Linked DNA regions of Homo sapiens. The protein of the gene in region 1 interacts with the protein of each later gene in a pairwise test. Each region holds a gene or a part of one and is shown in the gene's direction. Other genes may lie near its edges. The genes, in order: NOD1, SOX8 and GLE1.

Region 1 (3,642 bases):
CTTTAGCTGGACATGGTAGCACACACCTGTAGTTCCAGCTACTCAGGAGGCTGAGGCAAGAGGACTGCTTGAGCCCCAGAGTCTAAGGCTGCAGCGAGCTATGATTGTGCCCCTACACTCCAGCCTGGGTGACAGAGTGAGACCCTGTCTCTAAAAAAGGAAAGAAAAAAATTAAAAAGCCTTGCCAGGTTTGATTCTAGGCAAAGTATTCTGTCACCGTTGAGTGCCAGTCCTTATTTCCAAACTAATGGAAGACCCCATCAGTTAACTGATTAGTTCAATAAGTATTTTTTGCTGTATCCACCACATGCCAAGACCCTACACTGTGCTGGATGTCAGGGAGACAGTGGTGAGCAGACACAGACAGGGTTCCTGCCCTCAGGGAGCTTCAAGTCAGCTGGAAGAGACCACCAGTCAGCAATCTCAAAAATGTGTCAGGACAGCGGCAGTCCAAGGCATGTGAGAACATATCATTAGGGCCAGGATCTGCTCTGGGGCAGGAGTCTTCTTTCCCTGCTTTTGAACTCTCCACTTTGAGACAGCTGTTGGTAACATACCAGCACCAAGGACCTAAGTCCTGCCTTTTAAAGAATCCAATATGTTGTTGGAAACAGAAGCACAAGACAGGTGTGTGCTTAGGGGAAACAAGGCCAGCCGGCAGAGTGTCAGTGCTAGGCTCCAGCTTCCACAGCCCCTGCAGGTGCCTGCCAGCCACTGCTAGCTTCTGACTCTGTCTGCTCCTTCCTGTCTCCCCTTGTTTCCTTCCCCCATGAAAAAAAAAGAAAGTATTCCCATGAGGAATCATTCTTTCGAAAGACTTCTCTGTTGGTTCCGTTAGCCAGCTACTTTACTAGCTTTTACAGTGTAATTCACTCTACAAGCAGTCTCACACAAAAGACTACATATTGTATGATTCTGTTTATATGAAATGTCCAGAAAAGGTAAATCTATAGACAAAGCAAATCAGTAGTTGCCTACGGCCCAGGGATTGGCTACAAATAGGCTCCAGAAAACTCTGGGAAGATGGTAGAGATGTTCTAGACCTGGACTGTGGTGAGGTTTGCACAACTTTGTAAACTTACTAAAAATTACTGACAAATATATAACACTCCCTAACACTTTGGGAGGCCGAGGTGGGCAGATCGCTTGAACCCAGGAATTTGAGACCAGCCTGGGCAACATGGCGAGACCCCGTCTCTACAAAAAAACACAAAAATTAGTTGGGCTTGGTGGCATATGCCTGTGTCCCAGCTACTTGGGAGGCTGAGGTGGGAGGATTGCTTGAGCCTGGGAGTTTGAGACTGCATGATTGGGTCACTGCACCCTAGCCTGAGTGACAGAGCAGGACCCTATCTCTAACAACAAAAAAGCAGTGTTGGTGGAGGAGGGCCAGCGTGGCCATCTGGCCTGGCCCTCGAGTGCGAGGGGCTTCAGTGTTTAGCTGCAGTTCAGTGATGACACTGTGCGGAGGAATAAGGGTGGCCTGTCTCAGACACTGATCCCAGCTGAAGTTTGTCACCTTCTTTCTGGCAAATCTGAGGTCAAGCAGAGAGATCAAAGCCTGGGGCCCTCAGGGTCAGGAATGCTGGCTCTGTGACGCTCCCCAGGTCCTGCATCTGAGGAGTGGCTGCGCTGGCCTCAGGGCCCAGGTTGTGAATTTTGTTTATGCACTCGCCTCTCCTCTTTGAGACCTCCCTGTTTGATGCTGTTTCTGCCTCTCTCCTCACCCTGCTGCTGTGCCCTGCCACCCCCTCCCTCCAGTGAGCAGGTATACCCAGCAGCTGCGACACCATCTGGGCCGTGACTCCAAGTTCGTGCTGTGCTATGCCCAGAAGGAGGAGCTGCTGCTGGAGGAGATCTACATGGACACCATCATGGAGCTGGTTGGCTTCAGCAATGAGAGCCTGGGCAGCCTGAACAGCCTGGCCTGCCTCCTGGACCACACCACCGGCATCCTCAATGAGCAGGGTGAGACCATCTTCATCCTGGGTGATGCTGGGGTGGGCAAGTCCATGCTGCTACAGCGGCTGCAGAGCCTCTGGGCCACGGGCCGGCTAGACGCAGGGGTCAAATTCTTCTTCCACTTTCGCTGCCGCATGTTCAGCTGCTTCAAGGAAAGTGACAGGCTGTGTCTGCAGGACCTGCTCTTCAAGCACTACTGCTACCCAGAGCGGGACCCCGAGGAGGTGTTTGCCTTCCTGCTGCGCTTCCCCCACGTGGCCCTCTTCACCTTCGATGGCCTGGACGAGCTGCACTCGGACTTGGACCTGAGCCGCGTGCCTGACAGCTCCTGCCCCTGGGAGCCTGCCCACCCCCTGGTCTTGCTGGCCAACCTGCTCAGTGGGAAGCTGCTCAAGGGGGCTAGCAAGCTGCTCACAGCCCGCACAGGCATCGAGGTCCCGCGCCAGTTCCTGCGGAAGAAGGTGCTTCTCCGGGGCTTCTCCCCCAGCCACCTGCGCGCCTATGCCAGGAGGATGTTCCCCGAGCGGGCCCTGCAGGACCGCCTGCTGAGCCAGCTGGAGGCCAACCCCAACCTCTGCAGCCTGTGCTCTGTGCCCCTCTTCTGCTGGATCATCTTCCGGTGCTTCCAGCACTTCCGTGCTGCCTTTGAAGGCTCACCACAGCTGCCCGACTGCACGATGACCCTGACAGATGTCTTCCTCCTGGTCACTGAGGTCCATCTGAACAGGATGCAGCCCAGCAGCCTGGTGCAGCGGAACACACGCAGCCCAGTGGAGACCCTCCACGCCGGCCGGGACACTCTGTGCTCGCTGGGGCAGGTGGCCCACCGGGGCATGGAGAAGAGCCTCTTTGTCTTCACCCAGGAGGAGGTGCAGGCCTCCGGGCTGCAGGAGAGAGACATGCAGCTGGGCTTCCTGCGGGCTTTGCCGGAGCTGGGCCCCGGGGGTGACCAGCAGTCCTATGAGTTTTTCCACCTCACCCTCCAGGCCTTCTTTACAGCCTTCTTCCTCGTGCTGGACGACAGGGTGGGCACTCAGGAGCTGCTCAGGTTCTTCCAGGAGTGGATGCCCCCTGCGGGGGCAGCGACCACGTCCTGCTATCCTCCCTTCCTCCCGTTCCAGTGCCTGCAGGGCAGTGGTCCGGCGCGGGAAGACCTCTTCAAGAACAAGGATCACTTCCAGTTCACCAACCTCTTCCTGTGCGGGCTGTTGTCCAAAGCCAAACAGAAACTCCTGCGGCATCTGGTGCCCGCGGCAGCCCTGAGGAGAAAGCGCAAGGCCCTGTGGGCACACCTGTTTTCCAGCCTGCGGGGCTACCTGAAGAGCCTGCCCCGCGTTCAGGTCGAAAGCTTCAACCAGGTGCAGGCCATGCCCACGTTCATCTGGATGCTGCGCTGCATCTACGAGACACAGAGCCAGAAGGTGGGGCAGCTGGCGGCCAGGGGCATCTGCGCCAACTACCTCAAGCTGACCTACTGCAACGCCTGCTCGGCCGACTGCAGCGCCCTCTCCTTCGTCCTGCATCACTTCCCCAAGCGGCTGGCCCTAGACCTAGACAACAACAATCTCAACGACTACGGCGTGCGGGAGCTGCAGCCCTGCTTCAGCCGCCTCACTGTTCTCAGGTGAGGCTGCCAGGCAAGGGGAGCAACAGGTGGGCCGGGCGGGCCAGGCTCGGAGG
Region 2 (4,390 bases), on another chromosome or scaffold:
CCGGGGTCTGCGGACGGGGGCGGGCGGCCGCTGGGGGCACCAGCTCTCGGCCGGGCCAGAACAGGGGGTAGGAGGCGCGTCCTGTGCGGTCGGTGGCGGCCCCAGGTGGGTGCGGTGCGCTGGCAGGAAGCGGCAGCACGACCCCCGACTTTGCATCTGGACTTTTCTAGTAACGGACCAGCTCCTTCTGCCGACCGGGCCGGGGAGACCGCGTGGCTCAGTGGCTGCAGCGGCCACCGGCCCGGGCGTGGGGGCTTTGAGGGCACCGGCGCGGTAGGTCACCCGGGTTTCGCGGGCCGCAAGCTCGGAGACGCGCGTGTCCCGCGTTGGCTGCCTGACCCGGAATGGCGCAGCCCCTTCGCCTCCAGCGCGCTGGTTGAAAGGATCCGAGCCACCCTCGGGGACGGCCGGGCCGAGGCCACCTCGCGGGGCGGCCTTGGGCGGGGACCCGGACCCGCGGTTGGACGTTCGCCTCGGGGGGGGCAATGTCCCCTCTCCGACCCCGCGGTCCCCACCAGGGCGGCACACCCCGCCCTCTCCCCGCCTCCGCAGGCGCCCAGGGCTCACAGGCTCGGAGCGGCCTCCGCCTCTGCCGGACCACCCAGGGCCGCCCCGCCGGAGGGGCCTCCCCGCCCCCGAGCCCTAGGTCACGCCCGGAAGGCCCGGGGCCCCCGCGTCCGGCCACGCCATCCGCCCGGCGGCCCCAGGGACTCAGCGCCGGGGTCAGCGCAGGCCCCGCCCAGCGCTCCCGCCCCCTCCAGCTGGCCGGCCCCCGGGACCGCGCCCCCGCCCGCGCTCTCCACGCTCGCACTCGTATGGGCAGGGCGGCCCGGGGTCCCCCAGCTCCGAGCCGCGGCCCCTTGAAGCGCGTTACCTGGACGTGCGCTGTCCGCAGACTCTGGACGAGCTGGGCCTGGGCGCTGCGCGGCGGAACCGACCCTGTCCTGGACCGCAGGCAGCAGCTGACCCCGCGCCACCGGCCTGCGGGCGAGACCTCAGGCGCGAGACGGGCTGTGTGTGTGTGTGTGTGTGTGAGAGAGAGAGAGAGAGAGAGAGAGAGAGAGAGAGAGAGAGAGAGTGTGTGTGTGTGTGTGTGTGTGTGTGTGTGTGTGTGTGTGTGTCGGGGGAGGGGCCCGAGGACCCGCTTCCTAGCTGAGCGTCAGGACGGGGGGCGGACTCTCAGGAGCCGCGCGGCGCCCGCAGAGGAGAGGAAGCGCCGGAGACCCCCCTGCTCCCACCCGGCCTCCCTGCCCCGCTTCCTTTCCCGGGGCTCCAGAGAGGGGAGCTCCAGGCGTGGGGCGCCTGGCCCACGTGGTGCGGCGCCGGGCGGGGCAGGCGGGGGCGCGGCGAGAGCCGCGGAGCTTTCTTTATGGGTGGGGGGGCGGGGGCGGCCGGGCTCCGCCTCCGGGGGATCGGGGCGCGCTCCGCCAATGGGTAGCCGGGCGCGGGGCGGGGCCGCGGGGCCGCCGCTTAAAGAAACTTGTTGCGGGTCCCGCAGCGGGACCCGAGCCTCGGCGGCGGCGGCGGCGGCGGCAGGGGCGAGGGTCGGGGCCACCGCGCGGCGACCTCGGGTCCCGGAGCGACCGCAGGGCAGCCCCGGGCGCCGGCCCCGGTGCGCGTCTCCTGTGCGCGCCCCTCCGCGCGCGGCCCCGATGCTGGACATGAGCGAGGCCCGCTCCCAGCCGCCCTGCAGCCCGTCCGGCACCGCCAGCTCCATGTCGCACGTGGAGGACTCGGACTCGGACGCGCCGCCGTCTCCCGCCGGCTCCGAGGGCCTGGGCCGCGCGGGGGTCGCGGTGGGGGGCGCCCGGGGCGACCCGGCGGAGGCGGCGGACGAGCGCTTCCCGGCCTGCATCCGCGACGCCGTGTCGCAGGTGCTCAAGGGCTACGACTGGAGTCTGGTGCCCATGCCGGTGCGCGGCGGCGGCGGCGGCGCGCTCAAAGCCAAGCCGCATGTGAAGCGGCCCATGAACGCATTCATGGTGTGGGCGCAGGCGGCGCGCCGCAAGCTGGCCGACCAGTACCCGCACCTGCACAACGCCGAGCTCAGCAAGACGCTGGGCAAGCTGTGGCGGTGAGTGCCGGCGCCCCGGGGGCGGGGTTCGGGACCTTGGCCGCCCCTGGTCTCGGACTGCGAGCGGGGGCCTGGAGGGCGCAGAGCTCGCGGAGGTGGTGGCCACACGCAGGCTCCGGGCTCTGCACCCCGGGCGGGTGTCAGGGCGGGTCCCAGTGGAAAAACATCCTCTGGCCAGCCGGGGTCCGGCGCCAGCTATGGGAGTCGGGATCCGCGGAGGGCAGCGCCTGGGGTGTGCACCCTCGTGGCGGGTGCGCTCTGGAGCCAGTTCTCCTGGCGGGGAACACCCTGCGGAGGGCCATGGCTGGCACCCCGACGTGCCCTCCAGCCGTTGCGAGTGGCCCCAGCCCCGGGAGGCACGCCCGGCACGACAGCAAGTTGCATGCGGCTCTCTGGAGGTGCTCCCTCCTTAGAAAGGGCTCAGCTCCTCTAGCTCCTGGACCACCCATGGGGAGGGAGTGCGGCAGGCGGATGGGTGGGCAGCAGGTTTGCCTGCGAGTACCCTCCCCGCAGTTTCTCCCTCTCCTGGACACCCTCGGTCCGAAGCAGGGAGGGCAGGAGTGGAGATGACGGGGTGCGCCGTGTGCACGCCTTGGCGTGGTGGGGCCGGTCAGTTTTCCAGAAATTAGGACTGCAGAGTGAAGAACTTGTTGCTCAGGACAGGCCGCCCCCACCGAGTGTCCTCTGGTTGGGTTTCAAATGGTTCTCTTGGTTTGGGGCTCTGGTTCCCGTATCCTGCTCCTCACCTGGAAGAAGGGAGCTTGGAGCTTGCGTATTTGCACCTCCTGCCTTCTGTCTGGATCTAGGGCGCAGCCACGGGGCGCTGTGGACGGCAGGCCCCTGCTCCCCCAAGTCCTGCCGCACAGGCGGTTGGAGGTGAGCCTCGGGAAGAGTCCCAAGGAGTGTGTCCTGTGGCTCAGTGAGGACGGGCGCCTGGGCCCTGCCAGGGCTTCTGGGTGTCTGGGAATGGAGGGACAGCAGCCCAGCTGCCCGCCGAAGGCCGGCACCGTTCCCGGGAAGCCTCGCTTTTGTCCACCGCCGGCTGGGTCCTGCCCGCCTCCCCCGCCTCCCTTAGAAAGCCCCAGAGGGAGGGAACAGCAGGCCCGGAATAGGGGGAAATAGAAGGAGGAAGATGGGAGGCGTGGGGCTTGTTCTTCTTTGGCTGTCGTAAGCATACCAACCTTCCCAAACAGGCGCCGGCCGGTTCTCCCAGAGGAGTGTACTGCCTGGTGCCACGGGAGGCTCCGGAGCGCACGGCAGGCGGGTTTCCCTGGTCAGAGCCTCCTGGCCCCGGCCTCTGCTGCCGGTTCCCCCTGTGGTGTGTGCCTGCGCCGAGGGCACAGTGGGCGCCCTGGCCATCCCTGCCTCTGCCCTGTGCTGCAGCTTGCTGAGCGAGAGCGAGAAGCGGCCCTTCGTGGAGGAGGCAGAGCGCCTTCGCGTGCAGCACAAGAAGGACCACCCCGACTACAAGTACCAGCCACGGCGCAGGAAGAGCGCCAAAGCCGGCCACAGCGACTCCGACTCGGGCGCGGAGCTGGGACCCCACCCTGGCGGCGGTGCCGTGTACAAGGCTGAAGCAGGGCTTGGAGATGGGCACCACCATGGCGACCACACAGGTGGGCTCCAGGCCCCCCGCATATCTGAGGGTCCCTGTATGGGAGGCAGCTGTGGGGTTTCTGGCTGAGAAGGGTGCATGATGGTGGAGGGGGGCAGGCGCCCTCGAGAGAACCGGGCCTTCCCCGGGTTCCCTGAAAAAGCTCCCAAGGCCCCGGCCGCCCCTGTTTTTGGTGCACGAGGGACCTGCTTAGCCACCTTGAGTGCTGAGGGGCTGACAGCTTTGCTTGGCAGGGACCCCGAGAGGTGGTGTTTTCAGCAAGACTCAGTCCAATGCGGGCTCCTCTTCCCACACCGAGCTGCTGCCCACACGGCACTCAGCAGCCCCAGCTTCAGGGCCAGACTGACAGGGTGGAGTCCTGCCGGGGCCTCGGTCAGGCTGGCTGACGCCCGCCAGCCTCAGAGTGCTTGGCTGGCCCGGGGAGGAACAGGGTCTGTGTGGTCCCCCAGCGCCCTGTAAACCCCAGCTCTGGCCAGGCTGGGCCTGTCGGCTTCTTCCCCCCACCTTGGTCTCTGGGAGGGGCCTCGGGTCTTCTCATAGCACAGCGCTTCATGGAATTTTCTCGGCCGAGGAGTGAGGTCTAGGTCTGACTTTGCTGGAATTTCTGGGAAATGTAAAGAAACAAAAAGCCGTTGATCCCCCTGGCAGTTAGCGCGGGCGTCCCTCCCCTTCCAGCCTGGCCGGCCCCACCCGCCCCACAG
Region 3 (3,642 bases), on another chromosome or scaffold:
GCCAGTGTCCTCTAGCCTGGGCGACAGAGTGAGACCCTATTTCAAAAAAAAATAAAAAGCTCCTGAAGTCACCATACATGAACAATGATCCTGTATCATTTGAGAACACAAGTGGTATTCTGTATACTCTCCTTACTAAGTTTGGGAGGTATACCATACCTTTAGGAAGGCGTCCATTCATTAGAGGAAAAGAAGAGTAGTTCATTAAGACCTGATTGGTTAAATGGAGATATTGCCATATAAAGAGAAATGCTTTAGAAGAAAGTTGGGTGTTTCCATTTATTCCCTTGTTAGCAAGTTCAGTGGCATTGTGGTTGAAATTTTTGATAGGTGTGAAAGATGAAGGGCTGATTGTGCTTTATGAATCTGTCCTGTGAGTGTGAATTTTCATTTTCTGCTCTGACAGTGCCTGTCTTTCCCTCTAGGTGTGTGGGAATGCCCTCATGAAGCAATACCAGGTTCAGTTCTGGAAGATGCTAATTCTCATCAAAGAGGACTACTTTCCCAGGTATCAGGCTTGTTGAGCAGACAGCAGGGGATTAAGTAACTCATAACCAGGCCTCAGATACCCAAGGGTGCTATTACCTGCTGGTTTTGATTCAAGTTAAAAACACCTGTACTAAGTATGACATCTTTCCTACTCCAGTCCCTCTCGTTGATATTTGAATAAATGCTTTTGAACCTTAATGAGAGTCTGTCTTAAATATCATTGCCCAAACAAAAACACAAATTAGGGGCTGAGCACAGTGGCTTATGCCTATAATTATGCCTATAATTGCAGCTCTTTGGGAGGCCACAGGAGGAGGATCACTTGAGCCCAGGTGTTCAAAACCAGCCTGGGCAATATAGCAAGACCCCATCTCTACAAAAAAAAAATTAGCCAGGCATGATGGCATGCATCTATAGTCCCAGCTACTAGGGAAGCTGAGACAGGAGGATCGCTTGAGCCCAAGAGTTCAAGGCCTCGGTGAGCTATGATCGCACCACCGCGCTGCACTCCAGCCTAGGTGACAGAGTGAGACACCGTTTCCAAAAGATAGGTGTATATCATAGGTGTGATTCATGTGTCTTTCTCTCCCTGTAGAATTGAAGCTATCACAAGCTCAGGACAGATGGGCTCCTTCATACGCCTCAAGCAGTTCTTGGAGGTAAGATGCCCTTAGACCAACATGCCCCACACTGTTGTTGGGCTGGAATGCACCTATGTCTGACAAGTCTTGGACCTTCCGATGCTCTGATTGCACTCTCTTCCTTAGTTCTTCCAAACCCTTCTTTTTGTTCCTAATTCCCTCTTAACCTTTGGAGTAAGGGCTGCCATTTCCTCTTCTTTATATGTATCATTCTCTATACTGCCTGTGAGAAAGCTATGCTGAGATGAGTAAAATATATTTAGTGTATCTCCTCTCATTAATATATATTTTTTTTGCATGTTGGCCAAGGTTATTTTCTTAGTCTCAGGTCTGGGGAATTGGTAAGTGTCATCACTTTTCTCCATGAGATCAAACTGCACTTTCAGTTGGACTCTTCCCCTACTTCCAAGTGCCAAGAGATTGTAAAAGGTTAATTTTGACAAAGAATTTAGAACACTATAGTGGGTTTGCCAAGATAGCCTGCTGACTTTTCAGCTTCTCAAAGCTCGATTGTGAAAATAGTGATTGTGAAAGATGAGGTTAGCCTGTAGGGAGACAAGAGTGGGACAGGAATAATAAGAGCATTTCATTTGTTGTCTGGAGCAGATCATGCAGAAGTGGACATCTTATACAGAACCATCAGTCTTACTGGCTTTTTCCTTTTTGTTCACTGTTCCATAGGGCTGAAATATGGTGTTCCTCAAAGCTTCTTTTAACCATTAAGTGTTGGGAACACTGTTATCAGAAACTCATTCTGTTTTCTTCATCTTTCCCTGACCAGAAATGTTTGCAACACAAGGACATTCCTGTCCCCAAGGGCTTTCTGACTTCCTCCTTCTGGCGCTCCTGATGTCACTCCATCACCCACCATCACCGCTGCTGCAAAGAGGCAATAATAAAGGAACTGAAGACAGCTGTATTTGGGAGAAGTCATGTCAGATTCAGAAATTTGCCATTATGTATTTTTATGTATTTATGCCTTGTGACTAGGAGAGGAGATTTTCATGGGTCACAAAATTCTTGGAGGTCCCTTAGTAGATTTGGTAGTTCCTTAAGAGATCCACGTGATAAAATAAATGGAGTTGGCCTTTCTTGTTTTTTGCAAAAGTGATAAAAGGTCTTTAGCACTTGGTCTCCTCCCTTGTCTCTAGTGTCTTTCAGAAAGTTGGCAATACCTTAACAAATGCACTCTGAGCTGGAGGGAGCCCACCATTTGCACCCACCTACCCACCCTCACCCCTGTTCAGATGAATTTCCAGAAAGAGCTAAGGCTCATAAGGTTCCCTTTTAAGTATTATTTAATAGTTGAGGCCAGATACTTACATGCAAGTCTGGGTTATGGTTGTTTTGCCTTTCTCAGCTTGTGAAGTCATTCTAAAGCTAGAGGAAGTATGTGATATACACATGGACTAAGGCTCAGGTGACACTATGGCTAGATTAACATCTGGGATTAGGACTGGAAACACATGTCATTTTGAACTAAGGGAAACTCTTTGTCATCCTAATTTGGAATTTGGTCCCTGGATGGCTAGGGATCCATGAACCAGGCAGGTACCTTTTTTGTTTTTGTTTTGTTTTGTTTCTTTTCTGTTTGAATTAAGATGGGCTAAGATGGGGCTTGCAACATTAAACATGAGCTGAGCATCCATAAGCATTGAATTGGGATTAAATAAAGATGTTGGGCAGGAACTGAACACTGCTAATATGATGATAAATATGCCTGACTAAAGCCACTACAGAAATCCAGAGATTGGCTGTTAAAATTTGTTTTGTGGAAAGACTAATTCTCTTTGATACTGCAGAGGCAGTGGCCATGGATCTGTTCCTCTGTGCTAAATGTCTTGTGGCAGGGTGTGTTTGTGGGGGAGTGTTCACTGGTACTCTTGAGTGGCCTGAAGTGACCCATTCTATGAATTGTTAATTAAGGTGCCAAAAAAAATTAATAATAAAGCTTGGTTTTTTGAAAAACCCATTGCTGATATATTGGTTCAATATGATCAATTTCCTCTGCCTTGAGCTATGTAAATCATGATAGTATACAAGTCCAGGTATAGAGCGGTATGCATTTATTCCTTTTGGTCTTCTTGACCTACACCTTGGGAATATTACTTCTTTTTCTGTCATTTCCTTTTTTGGAATTATGTACTAATAACTGACCCTATTTTATCTAGCAAGAGATGTGAAAGTGTATTAAAATCTTTGAAAGACACAATAGGCCGTGCTTAGTGGCTCATGCCTGCAGTCCCAACACTTTGGGAGGCTGAGGTGGGAGGATTGTTTAAGTCCAGGAGTTCAAGACCAGCCTGGGCAACATAGTGAGACCCCCATGTCTAAAACAAATTTTTTTGGCCAGGCGCGGTGGCTCACGTCTTACCAGCCTGGCCAACATGGCAAAACCCTGTCTCCACTAAAATTACAAAAATTAGCTGGGCATGGTGGTGTGTGCCTGTAATCCCAGCTACCCAAGAGGCGGCTGGGGCAGGAGAATTGCTGGAACCCAGGAGGCAGAGGC

What was found.
Region 2: the proteins of NOD1 (region 1) and SOX8 interact in a two-hybrid assay, tested with the Homo sapiens proteins (one large-scale study listed by BioGRID and IntAct).
Region 3: the proteins of NOD1 (region 1) and GLE1 interact in binary tests that used the Homo sapiens proteins (3 or more experiments, as listed by UniProt).

What each region holds. Positions count from the first base shown.
Region 1 is NC_000007.14:30,451,160-30,454,801, reverse strand, and holds part of NOD1 (nucleotide-binding oligomerization domain-containing protein 1), read left to right. Parts: intron 1-1,761; coding exon 1,762-3,586; intron 3,587-3,642. UniProt on the Homo sapiens protein: Pattern recognition receptor (PRR) that detects bacterial peptidoglycan fragments and other danger signals and thus participates in both innate and adaptive immune responses.
Region 2 is NC_000016.10:980,271-984,660, forward strand, and holds the start of SOX8 (transcription factor SOX-8), read left to right. Parts: upstream 1-1,499; 5' UTR 1,500-1,652; coding exon 1,653-2,074; intron 2,075-3,457; coding exon 3,458-3,690; intron 3,691-4,390. UniProt on the Homo sapiens protein: Transcription factor that may play a role in central nervous system, limb and facial development. May be involved in male sex determination. Binds the consensus motif 5'-[AT][AT]CAA[AT]G-3'.
Region 3 is NC_000009.12:128,539,191-128,542,832, forward strand, and holds the end of GLE1 (mRNA export factor GLE1), read left to right. Parts: intron 1-425; coding exon 426-508; coding exon of another isoform or gene 509-524; exon of another isoform or gene 525-687; intron 688-1,084; coding exon 1,085-1,148; intron 1,149-1,911; coding exon 1,912-1,980; 3' UTR 1,981-3,098; downstream 3,099-3,642. UniProt on the Homo sapiens protein: Required for the export of mRNAs containing poly(A) tails from the nucleus into the cytoplasm. May be involved in the terminal step of the mRNA transport through the nuclear pore complex (NPC).